Homo sapiens: one gene and its partners. The protein of the gene in region 1 purifies or fractionates together with the protein of each later gene. This does not show direct contact. Each region holds a gene or a part of one and is shown in the gene's direction. Other genes may lie near its edges. The genes, in order: ZBTB1, MTCL1, SLC25A3, SPTAN1, TWNK, EIF4B and ARHGDIB.

What was found.
Region 2: the proteins of ZBTB1 (region 1) and MTCL1 purify together in Homo sapiens (affinity purification with mass spectrometry, with the first as the bait; one study listed by BioGRID). This does not show direct contact.
Region 3: the proteins of ZBTB1 (region 1) and SLC25A3 purify together in Homo sapiens (affinity purification with mass spectrometry, with the first as the bait; one study listed by BioGRID). This does not show direct contact.
Region 4: the proteins of ZBTB1 (region 1) and SPTAN1 purify together in Homo sapiens (affinity purification with mass spectrometry, with the first as the bait; one study listed by BioGRID). This does not show direct contact.
Region 5: the proteins of ZBTB1 (region 1) and TWNK purify together in Homo sapiens (affinity purification with mass spectrometry, with the first as the bait; one study listed by BioGRID). This does not show direct contact.
Region 6: the proteins of ZBTB1 (region 1) and EIF4B purify together in Homo sapiens (affinity purification with mass spectrometry, with the first as the bait; one study listed by BioGRID). This does not show direct contact.
Region 7: the proteins of ZBTB1 (region 1) and ARHGDIB purify together in Homo sapiens (affinity purification with mass spectrometry, with the first as the bait; one study listed by BioGRID). This does not show direct contact.

Annotation. Positions count from the first base shown.
Region 1 is NC_000014.9:64,521,770-64,525,451, forward strand, and holds the end of ZBTB1 (zinc finger and BTB domain-containing protein 1), read left to right. Parts: coding exon 1-1,877; 3' UTR 1,878-3,182; downstream 3,183-3,682.
Region 2 is NC_000018.10:8,712,056-8,715,555, forward strand, and holds part of MTCL1 (microtubule cross-linking factor 1), read left to right. Parts: intron 1-2,086; exon of another isoform or gene 2,087-2,194; intron 2,195-3,500. UniProt on the Homo sapiens protein: Microtubule-associated factor involved in the late phase of epithelial polarization and microtubule dynamics regulation.
Region 3 is NC_000012.12:98,600,186-98,603,685, forward strand, and holds part of SLC25A3 (solute carrier family 25 member 3 isoform b precursor), read left to right. Parts: intron 1-985; coding exon 986-1,096; intron 1,097-1,182; coding exon 1,183-1,343; 3' UTR 1,344-3,500. UniProt on the Homo sapiens protein: Inorganic ion transporter that transports phosphate or copper ions across the mitochondrial inner membrane into the matrix compartment. Mediates proton-coupled symport of phosphate ions necessary for mitochondrial oxidative phosphorylation of ADP to ATP.
Region 4 is NC_000009.12:128,576,587-128,580,086, forward strand, and holds part of SPTAN1 (spectrin alpha chain, non-erythrocytic 1), read left to right. Parts: intron 1-236; coding exon 237-370; intron 371-542; coding exon 543-687; intron 688-765; coding exon 766-920; intron 921-1,523; coding exon 1,524-1,659; intron 1,660-3,050; coding exon 3,051-3,152; intron 3,153-3,500. UniProt on the Homo sapiens protein: Fodrin, which seems to be involved in secretion, interacts with calmodulin in a calcium-dependent manner and is thus candidate for the calcium-dependent movement of the cytoskeleton at the membrane.
Region 5 is NC_000010.11:100,992,723-100,994,903, forward strand, and holds the end of TWNK (twinkle mtDNA helicase), read left to right. Parts: intron 1-467; coding exon 468-788; 3' UTR 789-1,681; downstream 1,682-2,181.
Region 6 is NC_000012.12:53,012,956-53,016,455, forward strand, and holds part of EIF4B (eukaryotic translation initiation factor 4B), read left to right. Parts: intron 1-3,500. UniProt on the Homo sapiens protein: Required for the binding of mRNA to ribosomes. Functions in close association with EIF4-F and EIF4-A. Binds near the 5'-terminal cap of mRNA in presence of EIF-4F and ATP.
Region 7 is NC_000012.12:14,948,102-14,951,601, reverse strand, and holds part of ARHGDIB (rho GDP-dissociation inhibitor 2), read left to right. Parts: intron 1-450; exon of another isoform or gene 451-685; intron 686-877; 5' UTR 878-889; coding exon 890-1,070; intron 1,071-1,716; coding exon 1,717-1,800; intron 1,801-2,705; exon of another isoform or gene 2,706-2,802; intron 2,803-3,500. UniProt on the Homo sapiens protein: Regulates the GDP/GTP exchange reaction of the Rho proteins by inhibiting the dissociation of GDP from them, and the subsequent binding of GTP to them. Regulates reorganization of the actin cytoskeleton mediated by Rho family members.

The DNA of each region.
Region 1 (3,682 bases):
CAGCTCCCTCCAGTTTTGAGCAGTTTAAAGTGGCAATGAACTACCTACAGCTATACAATGTTCCTGACTGTTTAGAAGACATCCAGGATGCAGATTGTTCTAGTTCAAAATGTTCCTCTTCTGCTTCCAGCAAACAGAACAGCAAAATGATATTTGGGGTAAGAATGTATGAAGATACTGTGGCTCGAAATGGCAATGAAGCCAACAGGTGGTGTGCAGAGCCAAGTTCAACGGTAAATACACCACATAATAGAGAGGCTGATGAAGAGTCTTTACAATTAGGTAATTTTCCTGAGCCACTATTTGATGTATGTAAAAAAAGTTCCGTGTCCAAATTATCTACTCCAAAAGAACGTGTGTCAAGACGCTTTGGGCGGAGTTTTACCTGTGATAGCTGTGGATTTGGCTTTAGCTGTGAAAAATTATTAGATGAGCATGTGCTAACCTGTACTAACAGACATTTATACCAAAACACAAGATCTTACCATAGAATAGTAGATATTAGAGATGGAAAAGACAGTAACATCAAAGCTGAATTTGGTGAAAAAGATTCTTCCAAAACATTTTCTGCACAGACGGACAAATACAGAGGAGACACAAGCCAGGCTGCTGATGATTCAGCTTCAACCACTGGAAGCAGAAAAAGTAGCACAGTGGAGTCTGAAATAGCAAGCGAAGAGAAAAGCAGAGCTGCTGAGAGGAAAAGGATTATTATTAAGATGGAGCCAGAAGATATTCCTACAGATGAACTGAAAGACTTTAACATTATTAAAGTTACTGATAAAGACTGTAATGAATCCACTGACAATGATGAATTAGAAGATGAACCTGAAGAGCCATTTTATAGATACTATGTTGAAGAAGATGTCAGCATAAAAAAAAGTGGTAGGAAAACTCTAAAACCTCGAATGTCAGTAAGTGCTGATGAAAGAGGTGGTTTAGAGAATATGAGGCCCCCTAACAACAGCAGTCCAGTACAAGAGGATGCTGAAAATGCATCTTGTGAGCTGTGTGGACTTACAATAACCGAGGAGGACCTGTCATCTCATTACTTAGCCAAACACATTGAAAATATCTGTGCATGTGGTAAATGTGGACAAATACTTGTAAAGGGTAGGCAGCTTCAGGAACATGCTCAACGATGTGGCGAGCCCCAAGATCTGACCATGAATGGGTTAGGAAATACTGAGGAGAAAATGGACTTGGAAGAGAATCCTGATGAGCAGTCCGAAATAAGAGATATGTTTGTTGAAATGCTGGATGATTTTAGGGACAATCATTACCAGATAAACAGTATCCAAAAAAAGCAGTTATTTAAACATTCTGCCTGCCCTTTTCGATGTCCTAATTGTGGCCAGCGTTTTGAAACTGAAAATCTAGTGGTTGAACATATGTCTAGCTGCTTAGATCAAGATATGTTTAAGAGTGCCATCATGGAAGAAAATGAAAGAGATCACAGACGAAAGCATTTTTGTAATCTGTGTGGAAAAGGATTTTATCAGCGGTGTCACTTAAGAGAACACTATACTGTTCATACTAAGGAAAAACAGTTTGTTTGTCAAACATGTGGAAAGCAGTTTTTAAGAGAGCGTCAGTTGCGACTGCACAATGATATGCACAAAGGCATGGCCAGGTATGTCTGTTCCATTTGTGATCAAGGAAACTTCAGAAAACATGACCATGTACGGCATATGATTTCTCATTTATCTGCTGGTGAGACTATATGCCAGGTCTGCTTTCAGATATTCCCAAATAATGAACAGTTGGAGCAGCACATGGATGTTCATCTGTATACATGTGGAATATGTGGAGCAAAATTTAATTTGAGGAAAGATATGAGATCACATTATAATGCCAAGCATTTGAAAAGAACCTGAGTGATTTTCTACTGTACTAATGTTTAGATGATAGCAGATAAAACACCAAAGCAAAGGATATGAGCTATTTAGGAATTGATTATATAAGATGATTTGTTAGAAACAAATTTCAAGGCCCTTTTAACTTTAATATTTTTGTTTAGGATTTTAAGTATCTACATTTAGGTATTAAATGTTTATCATTTTTGTTGTTTCTTAATAGAATTATTTGTTTTTAGTTTTTCTTAGCTATGATTAAAATTTTTAAATGTAGACTACAAGTGGTTGTTACCCATTCAATGACTATTAAACTTTAGTTTTTCATCAATAAGGTGATGACTTCACTATTTCTATGTGTTTTTTTTTTTTTAAGGTTATCCTGTGAAATTTTAAACCCAGAATCATTGGCCATTTCTGTTTAAATTTTAAAAATTCCTTAAGTAATTATTTGAAACTATCCCGTTTGCTTTTAGTGAGTTAACTACTCTTTATTCCCCCTTATTAATGAAATTCATATTCTTAAATTGACAAGCTTATTAGGCAAGTTAGGTGCACTGAATCTAACCTTTAAGGTTGACATGGGCTCAAACTTGGCCTAAAAAGATTGATGAACCTGAGGAAATTTTTATAAATGAATATTTCCTATAATTGATAAAATATTATCATTTAATTATCACATTTAAAACTTATATTAAGTGTAAATTCCAGTGGCTTTACCTCACTTGAAAAATTAGTGGGGATAAGCCATTTTGTTTTGTGATATTAAATTTAACTATGATAGTTAATTAAAAAGACATATCTTGTATTCATTAAAAATATTTTAATTTAAAATATTCTGATTTCTAAAGTGTGTTAGCTTATCAATTATTTTTGTTTATAAATAGACTTTAATAGCTCTCTAAGAATATGACCTCTAAAGGAAAAGATGATTTTTTACAATACATACTTCTGGAACTTTGAGATTTGAGAAAGCTTCCATGTATATTGATAAATCTAATAAAATAAAGAGATCAATTATAAACCTGGTTGTTCTATAAAAGTAGAGTGCACAAAAAAATGTCTTGTGTTTTATACTGTCTAAGATTTGGAGGAAATGTGGCAAATTGCAGTTTATCGCCATATTTTATTATCATTTTTTTCTGTAAAAGACTATAAAACTTGAGGATTATAAAATAATCACAGAGTATATCAATGGAAACAGTTTATCATTTTTTCAGTTAAAGTAGTAGTATTGTTAGTTGTTGCTGACACAGGGTCTACATAATTACATGTGAATTAAAACATTGGCAAAACTGACCCACCAATAAACACATCTATTGAATAGAATGCCTTTTAATGTGAATTACTTGCAATGTAGTACCCTTTTCATAATGAAAGGGATTTTAATTAACTCCTAATTTTAAAAATATAAATTTGTGATTCTGAACACTAATAGCATTGCTCTTTTTGTTCACATCATATTTAAAATATGCAAATCATATTTTGTATACAATTTACATAAAAGAACAAGTTGCCAAAAGAACTGAGAGACATACTGGTGAGTACAGATTTAGTTGAAAGCATTAGAGCACCATGTGAGCTCAGATTTGTGGGGATATGTTGAAGTGTTAAGTAAGGATAGGAACAGCACAGGAACCAAGTGCAGAATTCAAATAACGGGAAGTAGGCAGGGGACGGGTAGAATACACACAAAAATTAAAAATTTAACAGCAAAAGCAGGAAAAGTGATTCATCTTACCCTTACTTAGATACAATAGTTTATCAAGTAATTAAATTTGAAATCCAACTTAAAATGAAATGTGGTATGTATATTACTGATAGGAACC
Region 2 (3,500 bases), on another chromosome or scaffold:
TTTAGCAGCCATAACCCCACACCTCCCCCACCCCCAAATAGTGTCCTCTTGCCATGCTGACCTCCTGCAGGGTGGGTGAGGATTGGGGTGGGAAGAGCTGTTTCTTTTTGCTTTGCTTTGCTTTCTCAGTTATTTCATAGGAAATATTTTTCTGTTAAAAGAAAACAAGTTGGTGCTAGATACAAGGGCAGAGAAAATTGGCTTCTTGGAGAGGAATGATTTCCTAAGGGAGAGGTTGAGTTTTGGTTTTATAGGTTGCAGTGTCTCACTGCTGATCCAAGCTTACCATCCTGCTTCTCATTGGAGTTAGCCTTTTGAGTTTCAGGCCCTGACCTGGTTTTTGACATTTGGCAGCTGGGCTGCCCAGATGCCGGGTGCTCAGTGTGGCCTGGGGGTGGAGGGGCACTTGGAGAGGAGCGCAAGCAGTGCTCTGTAGCTGAGGTGTCTCAGCGCCTCCTTGCTCCCCGCCTCCTCCTCCTTTCTCTTTCAGAAGGGTTAACATGGACAGTATTCCCCATTCTTTCCTGACATTCGCTGTCCATACCCACTCTGTATTCAGCCACTGAAAGAGTGGCTATGATCATTTTCAGTGGCAGTTAATGTAGACAAGGGCTGCGGCCACCAGCTGCTGGCTGGACCATCACCTGGTAGACAGTGGGAGTCGCCCTGCACCTCCTTAGTTACAGCTGGGACTCTTGGAGAACATTTCCCTTGTCTGGAGGGAAATGAGGTGGATTATTCGTATGTTACAAAAGACAGTAGTTTCTGTCTGCCCAGAAGATAGAATTATTGCAGCAGTAGCCAGAGGACTCCTTCTACCATCCAAACTGGGTCTATTTAAAGAGGAGGTGCTAAAATAGAGATAGTTACTGATTTTGGGTATTTAAAAGAGATTAAGATTTTCATATAGTTATTAACATGATTAAGAGTTTTCATCACTTATACTAAGAAGCCATGGATTTGACTTTTATTATATATTCATGGATAAAACTATCCTTTTAGAGGTTTTCATTAAAACATATAATTTTAATCTTGGTTTACTCTAGTGCACACCTGGTACCTCATTATTCCTCTAATTTGAGATACATGATAAGGCTTGATTTGTCAGCCACAGGCAAAGGGGAATAGTCGACTGGACTTCACAGTACTTCAAGATTTCGTTTTATATACAAAACTTTAAAAAGGTATTTAATTAAAACTAGCTTTTCAATGAGATAATGATTTAATACTTAAGTATCCTCCAGACTTGATGTTAATTCAGTAAAAAACTATTAAGGACAGCTTTTTCTTATTTCCGTGTATAAAAAGACAACAGCGATTTTCCAATTTTATGTACTATCTCTAAATTACACCTGTCAGAAACATCATATGCTCTGCTCGATTTGGTTTACTTAAATTTTTAGTTGGCAGATGTCATTAAGGTTCTGCAATACAGTTTTCTAAATTGGAGCATGCCGTCAGAAAATTAATGTAATGTTAGTTTGAAAATCACTATCCATCATGACCCTAATTCCAGTAATCATAGTTTTTGCTTTTCAGATGGCTGCTGCCAGCTTACATGGTTTATAATTTGCTTGTCTTTAACTTCTTTTCACTGAACCTGAAAATTACTTTTTTCTAGGCTCTCTGGGAAGAGTTGAAACACTGGCCCTGGTCCTATTGCTGCAGCAGACCAATAATGGTGGAAAGCCATTTATACTTTTAGAATCTCAGTTTCCTCGTTTTAAAGATGGGAGTATTAGCCAGGCATGGTGGCATGTGCTTGTAATCCCAGCTACTCAGGAGGCTGAGGCAGGAAGATCACTTGAGCCCAGGAGCTCAAGGTGGCAGTGAGCCATGGCTGCACCACTGCGCTCCAGGTTGGGTCACAGAGTGAGACTCTGTCTCTTTAAAAAAAGCGGGGAAGGGGCACGGATATCTTTACCGCACGTTGCAGTGTCTTCCTAAGAACCAGTTGCCCTAATGGATATGCTTTGTGTCGTCACTTGTCGAGCTGTAAATGTTAGGCTGCTTTTTTTGTTTTACACTGATGGTGGACTTTTAAAAGTACAATTGAAGGTCTGTTATTGTTTCATTTGTCCAGGTTGAAGCAAATAATTTATGGTATTTACTCGAAAGAGTGTGTGATTGAAAGCAGACAGGCCTGGGTTTGCAGTGTGGCTTCAATTTACTAGATGTGAAGCTTTGGACACAGGTAACTAGCCTCAGTTTTGTTTTTTTGTCTATCAACTGCATAATGTGTTCCTGACAGGGTTATTGTAGGGTTAGTAATGAGGGTGAGGTGCTTAATAAACGACGCCTGTTCTGTAAATTTAGGTAAAATATGAATTATAAGAGCAGTGATTTAAATACATGCCGTTATGGTGCATTGGTCCATTTTTATACTTCTGTGAAACACTAGACTGGGTAATTTATAAAGAAAAAAGGGTTTAATGGACTCACAGTTCCACATGGCTGGGGAGGCCTCACAATCATGGTGGAAGACAAAGGAGGAGCAAAGACACATATTACATGGAGGCACGTAAGAACGTGTGCAGGGAAACTGCCGTTTATAAAACCATTAGATCTCTCTTGAGACTTACTCACTGTCACGAGCAGCAGAGGAGAAACCCGCCCCCGTGATTCAGTTACCTCCCACTGGGTCCCTCCTGTGACACGTGAGGATTATGGGAGCTACAGTTCAAGATGAGATTTGAGTGGGGACACAGCCAAACCATATCATATGATCTCTCCCTAATTTTCTTTTCTCTTTTTTTTTTGAGGTGGAGTCTCACTCCATCGCCCAGGCTGGAGTGCAGTGGCGCGATTTCCACTCACTGCAAGCTCCACCTCCCGGGTTCACGCCATTCTTCTGCCTCAGCCTCCCGAGTAGCTGGGACTACAGGTGCCCGCCACCACGCCTGGCTAATTTTTTTTATTTTTAGTAGAGACAGGGTTTCACTGTGTTAGCCAGGATGGTCTTGATCTCCTGACCTTGTGATCCGCCCGCCTCGGCCTCCCAAAGTGCTGGGATTACAGGCGTGAGCCACCGCACCCGGCCCCTAATTTTATTTGCAGTACAACTAATGTTGGTGATTATTTGTGCCAAAAAATATTGCTATTTACATCTGGTCTGCTCAATGATGTGGAGGTGTGGGTGCATCTAGCCCTTGAACAGTTTTCATAGCCTGTAACATCTGTATGAAAATGCAGCATTTAACATTAGGGTGGATGTGGGCTCTCCAGTTGCAAAGTCTGAAAGCTAGAGACATTTTATACCTGGAAGCTGTATCTTGCATCTTAGGGCTATATTGCATTTTAAAAACTTTTGTCTTAGTTGCCGATAATCCCAGGCATTAATGACTTTGGCAGGCTTTCTGGAAAGAAAAGCAATCACAAACCATTCTTTCCATGAACAGAATGGCCAGAGTCACTGTATATTTGTATGTGTGGATATACATGTACATATACATATACAGATATTGACTTAGTGTTGAACATTTAGTGATTATTGCTTGTAT
Region 3 (3,500 bases), on another chromosome or scaffold:
TTGGCGTTTTTTGAGAGGGAAAAATACTCCAAAGGTTATAAAGCAGTGTTTTTGTTTTTTTGGTTTCCCTGAGGCATAGTCTCGCTCTGTTGCCCAGGCTGGAGTGCAGTGGCATGATAATAGCTCACTGCAACCTCCTCCTCCTGGGTTCAAGTGATTCTTCTGCCGCAGCCTCCCAAGTAGCTGGGACGGGCATGCACCGCCATGCCCGGCTGATTTTTGTTTTTGTTTTTTGTTTTTTTTTGAGATGGAGTTTTACCCTTGTTGCCCAGGCTGGAGTGCAGTGGTGCAATCTTGGCTCACTGCAGCCTCCGCCTCCTGGGTTCAAGCGATTCTCCTGTCTCAGCCTCCTGAGTAGCTGGGATTGCAGGCGTCTGCCACTACGCCCGGCTAATTTTTAGTATTTTTAGTAGAGACGGTTTCACTATGTTGGCCAGGCTGGTCTCAAACTCCTGGCCCCAGGTGATCTGCCTGCCTTGGCCTCCCAAAGTGCTGGGATTACAGGCGTGAGCCACCGCGCCTGGCCTGATTTTTGTAAAGATGGGGTTTCACCATGTTGATGAGTCTGGTCTCAAACTCCTGACCTCAGGTGATGTGCCTGGCCTATAAAGCAGTTTTATCTTCCCATAACATTTTATATGCTTTTTAGGATTCATAAATACTTGCTAACTAGTTCCTAAAAGGGCTGTTTCATGGGATGTCATTATTAGGCTTGGGAATGTATTGATCTTACTGTTGCACCATTTTTTTGTTGTTGTTTATTAAGAATTTTATACAGAAAGTGTTGAATAAAATCTGAAAAACTTTAAAAGATTGTTCCGTTTTACATAGGATAGACAGCTTGATAACTGTACCCGTGTCACCCTGAGTCTGATTTTTATTTTAGAACTAGAAAAATATTATTTTAAAATCATAAAAATGATTATTGGCTCTGTGAAGTTTTGTTTTTAACTGGCACTGTATGGGATCCTTTATCTTTTTTCAGCTGGAGTCTTTTGTGCAATTGTTTCTCACCCTGCTGATTCTGTGGTATCTGTGTTGAATAAAGAAAAAGGTAGCAGTGCTTCTCTGGTCCTCAAGAGACTTGGATTTAAAGGTAGGATGATGTTTTTTTCTTGAAAGAAAGAACAACAGTTTTGGATATGTTGCATTTTTTTCATTTGCTTTTCCTGTTTGAACCAGGTGTATGGAAGGGACTGTTTGCCCGTATCATCATGATTGGTACCCTGACTGCACTACAGTGGTTTATCTATGACTCCGTGAAGGTCTACTTCAGACTTCCTCGCCCTCCTCCACCCGAGATGCCAGAGTCTCTGAAGAAGAAGCTTGGGTTAACTCAGTAGTTAGATCAAAGCAAATGTGGACTGAATCTGCTTGTTGATCAGTGTTGAAGAAAGTGCAAAAGGAACTTTTATATATTTGACAGTGTAGGAAATTGTCTATTCCTGATATAATTACTGTAGTACTCTTGCTTAAGGCAAGAGTTTCAGATTTACTGTTGAAATAAACCCAACTCTTCATGATTTGCCTGTGACTTATTTTTAAAACTTTTTTAAAAAAGATTTAGCTTTAAAATAGTTGGAAAGAATGAAGTATATAAGTTAAGGAAAAAATACAAAACTGACCATGACCATTGTTGGTTGAATATTCCAGTTGCTATTCAGAAATTGTCATATGTCTCAAGTTTTATCACACAAAGTTCCTGTATTTCTAGGGAAGCAGACTTTAAATTTCTAAAAACTTGATTTAATTATAGTTAAATATGTGTAGTCATTTGTGGTTATTTTGGCAAGTAAATGTCAGTGTATACTTACATTTTTGCAGCATGTACTACACCTTTTTTATGTTGGTGAGTTTGCTAATCCTTATTTGTAAGACAAGGTAAACCAAATTAGGCTGATTCTTAGAATGACAGTAAAGGACCAAAGTGATTGACAGCTGAAAACAATTTTCAGGTACACTAATTCTCTTTACACAGATCTGACTTTTTTTTTTTTTGAGACGGAGTTTCACTCTTGTTGCCCAGACGAGTGTAGTGTCGCGATCTCGCCTCACGGCAACCTCTGCCTCCCAGGTTCAAGCGATTGTTCTGCCTCAGCCTCCCAAGTAGCTGGGATTTCAGGCATGTGCCACCACGCCCAGCTAATTTTGTATTTTTAGTAGAGACGGGGTTTCCCTGTGTTGGTCAGGCTGGTCTCGAACTTCCAACCTCAGGTGATCCGCCCGCCTCAGCCTCCCAAACTGCTGGGATTATAGGCATGAGCCACCGTGCCCGGCTCTGACTTTTTACAGAAAATTGAACTATTTTCAGTCTGGTATTTTAAGAAAGGTACTGCTTGACAGCTGAACTATATGAATGCCACTGGGGAAAAAGCATTCCATCATACTTAGATACGAGATTGGATTGTAGGTTTAAGCCCATTTTTAAAGAGCTCCTAGAAAGTGAATTAGTTTTTGTGTTTAGATTCCCCTTAAGTTTGATTAGGAAGTGTATAAAAGTTCAATCTTTTGTAATGACAGCCCACCACTGGAAAAAAAACGAAAAACCTAGTGTAATATATAACATGCTGTTTTTCAAACACTAGATTTTACCTAGAGTCCTTATGTGTAATACGTGGGTTGGTTAACAGTCCCTACGTAAAGCGTACAGATGGCCTGGAGAGAAAAACTTTTTCAGAGATTGGAGAGAAATGTTACTACAAACTCATGGTAAGGTCAGTGAACTCAATTTAGAAGCCAGTGCAGCTAGTTGCATGTTAACTTCTTTATATCATCATTGCCTGAACTTGTTAAAGGTTCCAACATTTTACCTGTGCTGCAGGAAAAAAGGAAAAGTTGTAGGTACAAATTTGGACCAAACTTTAAAAAGGTAAAGTAGGATGTCTTCTGAACCCAACCAAGTGGTGGCTGTGGTGCTTAGCAGTATCAACTGTATATTATTTCTTGCTATGTTAGCAAAGCATCCAAAGATCAATGGTGTATGATAAGCTTTTCTGTGGGTGAAGAACTCGGGAGTATCAGACTCTTCTGGTTCTGAGTCTCATGAAGCTTTTCACTTCTGAGCTGAAAGGATGCTCTTTGTGCTTTTCACTATTAGTGGTATAGTCTTTCCCGAAAATCTCTAGCATGGTGGCTTCAGGGCAGCTGGACTTAGGTGGTATTTTGGGGCTCCAGGAGAGCTTGGCAGAGTTGGCTTTTTAGGACTTATCCTTCAATGTCACATAACATCACTTTTACCATGCTCTTGGTTACAACAGTGATGTCTCAGAAACCAAGTCCCAGATTGAGGAAAAAAGGAACATAGTCTCTACCTCTTCCTGAGAGGAAAGTCAGTCAACGTGTAAGAGGAGCAGTAGAAACGCATTAGTCCAGCCAACGTGAAAGTGGACCGTAGATCTAAAACATTTTGGGTATGCAGTTCAGCCAGCCCTTACTGAGGCAGTTCTGCCAATCAGGATTCAAGTTTTATTTCCTAAGAGTTATAATAGGTTTTATTTGTG
Region 4 (3,500 bases), on another chromosome or scaffold:
CACCTTATAGACTAACCACACTACTCCAAAAGATAGAGAATGGCTCTCCCCTTTTTACATAAGAAATAGAAACTCTTTGGAGTTGTAGTTCACTTTGTATCATGTTGACCATTATTTCTTGTGATTCTCTTCAGAGTGGTGATTTGCTGAGATGCTTCAAGGAACCAACCCCAGGGTAACTAGTTGGAGGAGCCAGAAGTTGTGTACAAATCCAGTCTCTTCTCTTCCTTGTTTAGGAGCAGCACCCTGAGGAGGAACTGATCAAGACTAAGCAGGATGAAGTCAATGCAGCCTGGCAGCGGCTGAAGGGCCTGGCTCTGCAGAGGCAGGGGAAGCTCTTTGGGGCAGCAGAAGTTCAGCGCTTTAACAGGTGTCAAGCCAGAGTGGGCTTTGGGGAATGGGTCTCAACCTGGAGGGGAGTTGTGAAGCACAGGGCATGTGCTGGTGAGCTGTCGAGGCTGACTAGGCCTTGGTCCCATGGGGTGTTCCTAGTTCTAGGGAGTCATCATTGCTGTGGATTAACTGGTGCCTTTGTTCTGTAGGGATGTGGATGAGACTATCAGTTGGATTAAGGAAAAGGAGCAGTTAATGGCCTCTGATGATTTTGGCCGAGACCTGGCAAGTGTTCAGGCTCTGCTTCGGAAGCACGAGGGTCTGGAGAGAGATCTTGCTGCTCTAGAAGACAAGGTGGGTTTTACAAGCAGCTGATTCTGTAAATAAGTTACCAAGGGTCAGGAGAATAGTTCTGACGGAGTTCATTTCTAGGTCAAAGCCCTGTGTGCTGAGGCTGACCGCCTGCAACAGTCCCACCCTCTGAGTGCAACACAGATTCAAGTGAAGCGAGAGGAACTGATTACAAACTGGGAGCAGATCCGCACCTTGGCGGCAGAGAGACATGCACGGCTCAATGATTCATACAGGTGCAAATAATGCTCCAGGTCTTAACCAGTATCATTTGGCTTCTTTTTTGGAAGCAGGAATAGCAGAGTTAAGGGTCTGTTCTGTGTTCTGTGAAAGTGTCAGGTATCACCTACAAATGCAAATCACTTCTTACCTATGTTCTCTCTGTTTGGAGACTGGCAACTGTATCATGTGTAGTATACGTATGGTATTTACAACTTCATAAATTCTTCTATTCTGCATCACTGCATTATGATTGATAGAATGGGAATGTCCCTTTAAGTATCTGAGTATCACATGAAATATCTTATTAAAACCAGGATTAGAAAGGAAAAGAATCCTTGCTAGCCAAGGGTTGAACCTGGGAATAACAAGGAAGTTGAAAATGTGGGACAGGATTGGGGCATTATAGTGATGGAGAGAACCTAAGTTTTAAAGGGTTGATTTCAGCCTTCTCTTGCTTTCCTTCACAGTCTAGATTGGGAAATTTTCATATTTCCCAGAATTAGAATTTATATAGTTTGTTAGACATTTGAGAACATAGAATTCAGAGCTTTAGGGAGGCCATTTTCCACCCTGGAACCTCCGCTGGAAACATAATGTCTTCCTTTGGTTTTCCCTAGGCTTCAACGCTTCCTTGCTGACTTCCGTGACCTCACCAGCTGGGTGACTGAGATGAAAGCCCTCATCAATGCAGATGAGCTTGCCAGTGATGTGGCTGGGGCTGAAGCCCTGCTAGATAGACACCAAGAGCACAAGGTAATGGTATCTCTAGAATCTTCCAGAAGTGAAGATTTTAGCTTATAATGCACCAGTTTATCAGTGTTGGGTGAGGCCTATAGTCGGCGTTGGTACCATGTTATTCACAGGTGTTTCTCATCATGAGGATTATGGTTGGTTTTGCCTTTGGAGACCTGGTCTACCTGCTTCTGATAGAGGCTTAACTGGGTTCAGTGTCAAGAGGTTCACTGTGGTCCATAAAAGCAAACAGACAAGCTCTGGCGAGATAGAAGTGCTACTACTTGGCACATTGATCCTTTGTGATGTAAAAAGTATTTGTTGGGCCAGGCACGGTGGCTTATGTCTGTAATCCCAGCACTTTGGAAGGCTGAGGCGGGTGGATCATGAGGTCAAGAGATCAAGACCATCCATGCCAACATGGTGAAACCCCATCTCTACTAAAAATGCAACAGTTAGCTGGTCATGGTGGCACGCGCCTGTAGTCCCAGCTATTCAGGAGTCTGAGGCAGGAGAATCGCTTGAACCCGGGAGGCAGAGGTTGCAGTGAGCCAAGATCACACCATTCCACTCCCGTCCGGACAACAAGAGTGTTTCACTCTGTCTCAAAGAAAAAAAAAAAAAAAAAAACCTTCTGAGAGGTTTTAATGTGCTAGATACAAAATCAATATACTGAAAGTCAAACATGTTTCTCTACACTAGCAACAGAAACATAATTTTTAAAAATACTACTTATTAGAGCAGAAAATATAAAGTACTTAGGAATAAGTCTAACAAAAGAGTGTAAGACACTTCTGGAGAAAACTATAAAACTTTGTTAAAAGGCATTAAATAAAAACTGAATAGATAGAATGATTTATCTAGTACACAGATGGAACGATCTTCTGTGAAGGTGTAAATTCCCACCAGGATATATACCGTTAATGCAGTTCCAGTCAAGTGCTCAGCAGGTATATGTGTGTGTTTCTTTTTGCAATGAGATAAGCTGATTCCAAAACTGATTTGGAAGAAAAAAATTCAAAAAAAGCTGAGACAATGTTGAAGATCATAATGGGGCCAGGGAGGGACTCGCCCTACCAGGTTCTATAAAATCATAGTAAACAAGTCCATTTGGCACAAAGAAGACAGAGCCCTGGAATGAAAGAGAGCTCAGACCCATGTGAATGTGTGGAACCTTGACAAATGACAGGTGACCTGAAAAGCCATTTGGAAAGGATTTCATCAGTGAGTGATACTCTCACATTTGATGACCTAGACTGATTATGTATTAGGAAATCTGGCCTAATCTTTCATTTTGTTTCTCATTTTAGATGTCATAGTCTGGCTTATAATGCTTATGTAAAATTCAGCACCTTGTTTTTATTTTGTAAGATGCTGGGCACAAATCATGGCTTTGTTTTTTTCTCCTGTAGGGTGAAATTGATGCCCATGAAGACAGCTTCAAATCTGCAGATGAATCTGGACAGGCACTGCTTGCTGCTGGTCACTATGCCTCAGATGAAGTGAGGGAGAAGGTAAGAGAAGAGAAATGGAGCTTTTGAGGAGCAAATTACACCTTTCACTAAGTCTCTGAAAGCTATTATTCATCCTTAAATATCCAGAGAACGCATTCACCATGATATGTGAGAAACTTTCCTTTCTCTGCAGAGGTTTAAAAAGAAGGTATATGTATAGTGTGCTGATTTCCTGAGAGACAGTCCTCCTTATCTGGGGCATGTGTGGCATGTTTCCTACTTACAGGGACTTTCTGTAGGGAGCTGAGTCTTGCATTAGGAGTTGGAGCAAAGAGGAAACAAATTTTTATAAAATGATACATAGGCCAGGTGTGGTGTGACCCCAGCACTTTCAGAGGCCAAGGCAGG
Region 5 (2,181 bases), on another chromosome or scaffold:
TGGTCAGTAGTTCAAAGAGCTTTGGTCATGGGGGGAAGTACTTTTCCCTCTCCCATTCTTTCTCTTTTTTTTTTTCTTTTTTGAGACGGAGTCTCGCTCTGTTGCCCAGGCTGGAGTGCAGTGGCACAATCTTGGCTCACTGCAACCTCCGCCTCCCGGATTCAAGCGATTCTCCTGCCTCAGCCTCCCAAGAAGCTGGGACTATAGGTGCATGCCACCATGCCCAGCTAATTTTTTGTATTTTTAGTAGAGATGGGGTTTCACCGTGTTAGCCAGGATGGTCTTGATTTCCTGACATCGTGATCCACTCGACTCGGCCTCCCAAAGTTCTGGGATTACAGGCGTGAGCCATTGTACCCAGCCCCTCTCCCCATTCTTATCACTCCTCCCTGCCCTGTCAGCCCCCCTTTCTGCTTTGCTCATGTCCTCTTACTCCTGCTTTCCTCCTTCTGCCCCCTGTTCCCCAGGCAAGCCAGGAAGCAGACAATGTTCTGATCCTGCAGGACAGGAAGCTGGTAACCGGGCCAGGGAAACGGTATCTGCAGGTGTCCAAGAACCGCTTTGATGGAGATGTAGGTGTCTTCCCGCTTGAGTTCAACAAGAACTCCCTCACCTTCTCCATTCCACCAAAGAACAAGGCCCGGCTCAAGAAGATCAAGGATGACACTGGACCAGTGGCCAAAAAGCCCTCTTCTGGCAAAAAGGGGGCTACGACACAGAACTCTGAGATTTGCTCAGGCCAGGCCCCCACTCCCGACCAGCCAGACACCTCCAAGCGTTCAAAGTGAAGGCCGTGCAGAGCTGGTCACTGAAATGAGCCTGATAGGATAGGCTGGAGCATAAAACTCTGCAAGGGCTCCTCTATCCTGTGGTCCTGAGCTGTGTGCCCTTCTCAGTCTGAGGGGCCTAACCTAGAGCAGGTTTCCATAGTGAGAAAATTCAATGTAGCAGACTACTGAGAAACTACTGTGTTGCTCAGGCTTTGTTTGAGGTCCTGTATATACAGCACTGAAAAGAGAGATAAAGTCCCTGCCTGCATGCATTCTGGCGGAAGAGACAAGCAAGCAATGAACAAATTAGCAGAAAACCTAGTTTTAGTGAAAAATGCTGTAAAGAAAATAGAAATGCGATAGAGTGCTGGCAGGCTAGTGTAGATAAGTGGTCTGAAAAGGTGTCTCTGAGCCGAGGGCATGTGAGCTGGGGCCTAAACAACTAGAAGGAGAGAGCCACGTGAACATCCGGCGAAGGGGACCCAGGCAGAGAGAAAAGGAAATCCAAGCCCTGAGGTAGGAATGAGCAGGTCAGATTCAAGGCAGTGAGGTCAGGCCGCATGAACCTGGAGGGGAATCGGGGACTTCATGCGAAACTCCAGCCTAGGCTTTCAAAGTCAAAGGGTGATACAGTGGGTACCAAGCTCCTCTGCTCCCCACTTTGTAGAGCCTAGCATGAGGTGGCATGTACTAGAATTGGATCCTAGGTGCTTAGCCCTGCAATATCAGGGCCTCACTGGTGGGAGCTGCCTCGGGCTGGGTTGCTTGGTCATAGAGCCATAGAAGGAAGCTGTCAGCCCGGAGTGCCTGCCACCTAGACACTGATGCCATTGTGTGCTGCCTCAAGACTGCTGGAGTCAGGACATTTTATAGAGCCTTTTCCAGTTTTACTAAAAAATTTTTCCATTGCCTTTGTTTCTGTGCTTTTTCTTATTCATCCACCAGGTGTCTCCCCAGTCCGTAGCTGAATTTCCCTTTCGGGATTGGGAATGGACGGGTCCCCTCCCACTGCTTGCAGCCTTTGAGCGGTGGGCTTCCAAGGAAGCAGGGACATTAAAGGGCCTTCACACCCCACCTTCCATTTACATCTCTTCTTGGCCTAGGGAAGACAAGATGATCTGTCCTCATACCTAACTTCCCTGAGGATCTCGAGTGATTCCTGGCACAGGTACTCATCACTGGGCCACATGAGCCCAGTGCCCTGCCTGACTGGCCATTCCTCTGTGATGTGAGCCACTCACCTCTCAAGTGGACTTAGACTCAACATATTCTGTCCACCCCCATCCATCTCCCTCCTGTACCCTCTCCGTGTTTCTCATATGCTAATGCGTGCCAGAACTCCTGGGGACTTGTGAAAAATGCAGAAACTAGGCCCCATTCTCCCCCCATCCTCCACCACGTACATTTCTCA
Region 6 (3,500 bases), on another chromosome or scaffold:
GAGACTTGTGATTTGAAAAGACATTCTAAGATTTAAAAGTGCTTTTAATATTTTTTAGTCATGATATTTAATTTGTTTGGAAATTTCAAATAACGTTAAAGAAGAAACTTGTTTGTCAAAGGAGTCAAGGGGTGAGAGTTGAGAAACTGTGATCTACAAAGTTGATTTAAGCCAAATCGGACTAAAGGGCAGATTAATTCCACATTCTGCTGTTTTGGTAGAAGATACGTATATAGAACAAAGAGGAAAGGGATACCTTATTCAGATTGTTAATGTTCTTTTGTTGAACTTGACCTTATTGTACTGACCACCAGTTCTGTTTTTATCCTCCCAGTGGAAGGACAGGTTAATAATTGGATATTAGCTGATGGTACTAGATTAAGCCCCATGAGGGTAAGGATCTGTAGCTAGCATCATATTAATCCCAGACACTATTTTTGAATTAAATGATATGAAAAAGTCTAAAATAAGCCCACGCACTGTAAGTGGTTTACCTCATGTCTTACTCGTGTTCGCTTATTAAAATCTCCCATAGATCTTTGCATATGAGGCTGGGCACAGTGGCTCATGCCTGTAATCGCAGCATTTTGGGAGGCCGAGGTGGGTGGATCATTTGGGGTCAGGAGTTTGAGACCAGCCTGGCCAACATGGTGAAACCCCATCTCTACTAAAAATACAAAAATTAGCCAGGCTTGGTGGCACATGCCTGTAATCCCAGTTACTCAGGAGGCTGAGGCAGGAGAATCACTTGAACCTGGGAGGCAGAGGTTATAGTGAGCCAAGATGGCGCCACTGCACTCCAGCCTGGACAAGAGTGAGACTCCCTCTAAAAAAAAAAAAAAACCTTTGCATATGAGCTGCAGCAATAAAAGTGCTATGAGACCCAACCTCTCTGTAACCGTATTCTTTGAAAGCTGTGGAATAAGGCCAAGTGCAGTGGCTCACATCTAATCCCAGCACTTTGGAAGGCTGAGACGGGTGGACCACTTGAGGCCAGGAGTTGAAGACCAATCTGGGCAGTGTAGCAAGACCCCTGCCTCTACAAAAAATTTTAAAATTAGCTGGGCATGGTGGTGCATGCCTATAGTCCCAGCTACTCAAGAGGCTACAGTGGGAGAATTGCTTGAGCCCAAAAGGTCAAAGCTGCAGTGAGCCACGATTGCACCACTGCAAAAAAAGAAAAAAGAAAAAGCAGGCCGGGCGCGTTGGCTCACGTCTGTAATCCCAGCACTTTGGGAGGCTAATCACGAGGTCAGGAGATCAAGACCATCCTGGCTAACACTGTGAAACTAAAAAAAAAAAAAAAATTAGCCTGGCGTGGTGGCACGCGCCTGTAGTCCCAGCCACTTGGGAGGCTGAGGCAGGAGAAATTGCTTGAACCTGGGAGGCGGAGGTTGCAGTGAACTGAGATCGCGCCACTGCACTCCAGCCTGTATGACAAAGCGAGACTCCGTCTCAAAAAAAAAAAAAAAAGCGTAGGATGGATTCAAAATGTGATCTGGTTGATCATAAACAATACTTTTGGAGCTGGATTAATATTAAGTCACTTGAGAGATACAGAAAATACCATGTTCGTGGTCAACTTTGATTATTTTAGCCGGGTTCATCTGGTTTGCACATTGAGACCGTAATACTTCAGGTTCTAATTGTGTCCAGAAGGCTATGTGTTAACATTCATAGCAAACTGGTTACCTTTATTTCCTGAAAGTTAAATTTTGAAAGAAAGGGATACCAAGTGAGAAAGCAACCTTCAGTTAAACAAAGGGGTACATCAAGTTTGATATTCTTGGATTAAAAATCAGGTGACAATTGGAACATGGAGGAGAAATTCATGATTATAAAAACCATGAAGCCAATCTTTTTTACAACAAAGCTGCTTGTTTTTTTCTTAATCATGTAGTGGCTGCTATCAGGCCAGTTCTGGAACTTCACTGAGTCCCTCTGCTCTTCTGAATCAGCTCTTGATTGGTGGTGACTTCTCGGAAGTTCTGAGGACCACAAAGAAAGAGCAGTGTCAGTTCACTAAGTTGAGCCATTTGGAGATTACTAAATATTCCATAACTGTGGGAAACACTTAAATGTGTTGGTTATTAGGGTTTTCGTGTGTTTTCCTTTTAGCATTACATCCTCATATGCAGTGTTGTTATAGTAGAGGAGGACATTTTTTCTAGAGGGCAGAGAGATCTAGGGAATATGACTGTTAACATTTGAACACTTTCAAATAGCAGTACGTTTTACTGTGGTTTTGATAACCTGACATAGAATAAGCTGCTGAGATGCAAGGATACCTTGGTATATAGAAAGAGCCTTAGACTTCGTATGAAAAAAACTTAGGTTTTATCTTCAGCCTAGCCATCTAATGTCTCTGTAACTTTACAGACATCTGGTGTTTCACTTAACCTCTCTGAGACTTAGTTTCCTTTTCTGTAAATTGATAGTTGTGGCCAGGCACCATGGCTCATACCTGTAATCCCAGCATTTTGGGAGGCTGAGGCAGGAGGATCACTTGAGCCTGGGATCCTCCAGGATACTTGAGACCAGCCTGGGCAACATAGGGAATTAAAAAACTTTTTAAAAATCAGCTGGGCGTGGTAGTGTGCCTCTGTGGTCCCAGCTATTGAGGAGGCTGTGGGAGGATCACATGAGCATGGGAGGGTTGAGGCTTCAGATAGCCGTGGCCACACCACTGCACTACAGCCTGGACAACAGAGCAAGACCCTGTCTCAAAAAAAAAAAATGGGGCCGGGTGTGGCGGTTCACACCGTAATCCCAGCACTTTCGGAGGCCGAGGCAGGAGGATCACCTGAGGTTAGGAGTTCAAGACCAGCCTGGCCAACATGGTGAAACCCCGTCTCTACTAAAAACACAAAAAATTAGCTGGGCATGGTGGCGGGTGCCTGTAATCCCAAGTATTCGGGAGGCTGAGGCAGGAGAATTGCTTGAACCCAGGAGGCAGGGGTTGCAGTGAGCCGAGATGGCACCATTGCACTCCAGCCTGGACAACAAGAGCAAGACTCTGTCTCAAAAAAAAAAAAAAAAAGACAGTTGTGATTCCTTCCCTATATGGTTTGTTTACAAGTGTCAAAACAGTCTTCAAAACTGCCATACTGAATATGTTATGTGAGATACGAATTTTTATTGATCTTTTTTATCCAAAGAGCAGTGAAAGTAGTAACTGAATAGAAGTAGTTACAAAATTAAAGATCTCAAATGATAAGTGAATATAGTAGAAAATAAAAGGTTGCCCCCACACTCCAAACATACTCTCCAGGGTGTATCTCAAACACTCAGACCCTTTTCCGTACGTAAACATGTGTTTACACATAATAGGTATTCTGCAACTTTTAAATTTCTTATTTATGTCTGCATAGTACCCCTTCATGGAAATGCCATAATTTAACCATTTGAGGAGCGTCCATGTTATTTCTTTCTAAATAATGTTTTACAATATTGCATTGTACAACTCTGTAAATACCTGAGTATTGGTGAATAATCTTTCT
Region 7 (3,500 bases), on another chromosome or scaffold:
GAGAAGGGGAGAGACTGAAAGGGAAGTGGATCCAGAAAAGGGAAATGGATGGACAAATGCTAAGGGCAAATTTGTACTTACGATTTTGTCTGGAGGAATTTAAACTGTCCTTTGCTATTTTTGTGGCATTTAAAAAGAATAGAATATCTTTAGATATAAAACCTTATATATCAATCAAGGAAATTGTATAAAGTGCCAGAACTATGCAAGTGTTTTAGGGGGAATTCAAGAAAAACAGCAAACCTAGTACCCACCCTTGAGGGGTGATTAGCAGTGTTGGGTGTGAACCATGCAGGCACCTGAGGCAGGTATCATAAAGGTCAACGGTTCGTCATGAGTCATCTTTGAGGCATTGCTGGAGTTCAGGGACAGATTCCATTGATGGGGAGGAGCCAACCATTTCTCTGGCAAGTACTCCACCTCTCTCTTCTCTCTCCTGCCTCTCTCCACCATTATCACTCAGACTGTGCATGCTGCAAGCTTTGACGCTAGCCAGGCTGGCTGGATTTGGAGGACTGTGATAACTCCTACAGCTTTTTGACTGGGCTTTTGCTTCATTTGTTCAGGAGTCTTTGTGCCATGTTGCTTCACTCGTAGTACGTTATTCACATATGAGTGATTTCTTTCTTGTCAGTTTTGTTCAGTGAATAGAAGATACTACAATGGTACAGAGAAATTCAGGCAGGTCAGAGAAATTACTAGAATACATTAGATTATTATTTCATAGAATTTAATGAGATTGAATTAGGAAAACAATCAGGAAAGTGACTGATGATCAGAGAAGTCCATGAGGGTAAGGAGGCTGCTAACAGCAGCCCCACTAACATCTTTTATATTCATGACTTGTTGACTAACGGGCTGTCATTCTGTCTCCCAGAAATAGATCAGAATGACTGAAAAAGCCCCAGAGCCACATGTGGAGGAGGATGACGATGATGAGCTGGACAGCAAGCTCAATTATAAGCCTCCACCACAGAAGTCCCTGAAAGAGCTGCAGGAAATGGACAAAGATGATGAGAGTCTAATTAAGTACAAGAAAACGCTGCTGGGAGATGGTCCTGTGGTGACAGGTATGTGTGTACAGAGAACAGGGTGGGTGGAAGATCGCTGAGAGGGAAGAAGACATTTTGGCTGCTCAGGAGCAGCAGCAAAGGGAAGAGGACCAACTGCTTCCAGGAAAAAGTGAGCGAGGCACAATTTATATATGCTGATTAAAGTTATGAACTGTATAATTAAGTCTTCTTAAGAGATAAGATGCAAGTCAGCAGTGAGATAGGCACACATAACACACAGAGGGGATTTAGAAAGAATTCCAGGCTACCACTTAGAATTGTATTTCTCTCTCTCCATTTTCTCTCTTTCTCAGTCCTTACCTAACCGTTCATCTCTTCCACATACACCGCGGCAGAACAAGACATGGCCCAGAGATATAAATGGACAGTGCCCAATTAGCAGAGTACCTGACCCATAGCCATTCAGGAAATGTTGGATGTCAATAATTAGATGGACCTACAAGTGCCTAAAGCAGAAATAACTTTGCTGTAATTTACAAGGCCATCAAGACCAAGCATAGCAAACCTGCCACATCCATTTCTATTTCTACTCCAGATAGAAAGATCACTTTTATTTTCATACTCTCTGTCTCCCACTTGAAATGCACACACCCACTATACACATGTCTCTTCTTGGTACTTACATTCCCTTTCGATCCTGCAGATCCGAAAGCCCCCAATGTCGTTGTCACCCGGCTCACCCTGGTTTGTGAGAGTGCCCCGGGACCAATCACCATGGACCTTACTGGTATGTAGACACATCTGTACTGTTCAAAGGGGGCCTAAGATATCACAAAGAAAACTTGGTCTCTGTCTCCTGTTCCAACAGAAGAAAACTGGTGAATCAGAGAGATATATATGCTAGGACCAGTTAACAAATCATTGCTCTTAGAGTGCACAGTATTTACCATGTTTCATGAAAAGCCCAATCTTTATCTCTATTTAATTGAAGAGAGTGCAGGCATACACATTTGATATATTTACAGATTTTTGTCTCCACATGATAGTAAGAGAATTGTTATTTATGCAATAAAGACTGCTGATGGAAATATTAAGAAACAAATTGTGTGCTTCTGAAGTTATAAGGTTTATACAGTCTAAACATCAAAGTATTGATCTTCTATCCACTACAAAACTTACTGGAAGGTGAGAAGCAATCCGGAATTATACTAGAAATTCCACTGCTATAGATTGAATTGTTTTAGCTTGAAACTCTGATTCTTGTTAAATAAACAACGTCTCCTACTAAAGGCGTACAAATTAAGATGTTATTTTCTTTCACCTTATTGTAACTAAGGGTCAAGCCTTTCCCTGAGACTTAGGGCTTGAGGAGGAGAGAGACTGGGAAGGGGGTTATTGTGGAGGAAATGGGCATCAGAGGGGATATGAGAGGAGAAGCACGGAGCCAGGAGATTGGGGCCTTCAAAGGCAAGTTTTTAGTGGAAAAAAAAAATAGTTACCAAATGAAAAAATTGGACTCTTGTGAGACAGACAAAGCACAAGTCTAGAACAGTTGGCTTAGTTAGCAGCAGAGTAGTTCCCCTCTCACAGGACACAGCCAGTCTTTACCTTATATGGGCTTTTTTGTCAGAGGGAGGAAATCAGAGGCTGAGAAGGCACACTTCCTGTTCAACTGAAATCATTAGAGCAGGCACACACACACATTCAGCTACCCCGACATGCTGACATCTCTCCAGGAGAGAAACTCACGCTCTCTCACCAGAACTCAGAGTCTTCCTAATATTACCAGGTACAGCTGCCAGTTTGCAAGATAAGGTCTGAATTAGCGCTAAAGAAATCTGTTCTCTTCAGCAGGACCTGGTAGTATTGCAAGGAAAACTTGGTCTCTGTCCCCTTTCCCAGCAGAGGAAAACCAAATTGGGTTTTCTGTCACTAACAAGCTGCTATGCATGAAGAAAAGCATAGAGAGTGATTACCTCCTTAATCAGGGTACAGGAATTTGGGACAGATCCTGGTTTTATGGAACCTGAAGCTTTTATAACTTCAGTGATATTCCTTAAGAAAAATAGTATGAAATTGCAAATGAAAATACAAGAGTAAACACAAAGGTGAACATTTTCTTAAAGTGATAAAATGAATAAAAACAAGTAGAATTTTAAAAGCTAGAAAATGCCACAAACATCACCAAATCTATAAAAACAAATAGCTGACACTCCTAAATACTATTTTTCTTATATGTTTTATTTGAGGGGTAAGGGGCATATTCTTTAATAACCTCTTCATTTGACCAGTAATATAATTCTCAATGAGAGAATAAATGGACCAAAAAAAGATTTATCTTCACAACTCATTATTTGTAATGTCTTGTGTATTTTTAGCATTGTCATCAAACTTGGGGGCAGGGAAACTCTCATGTTTTTCATAACAGAGCTGTAAGATTTCAGGCATTAAGTGTGTGTGTGTGTGTGTGTGTGTGTGTGTGTGTGT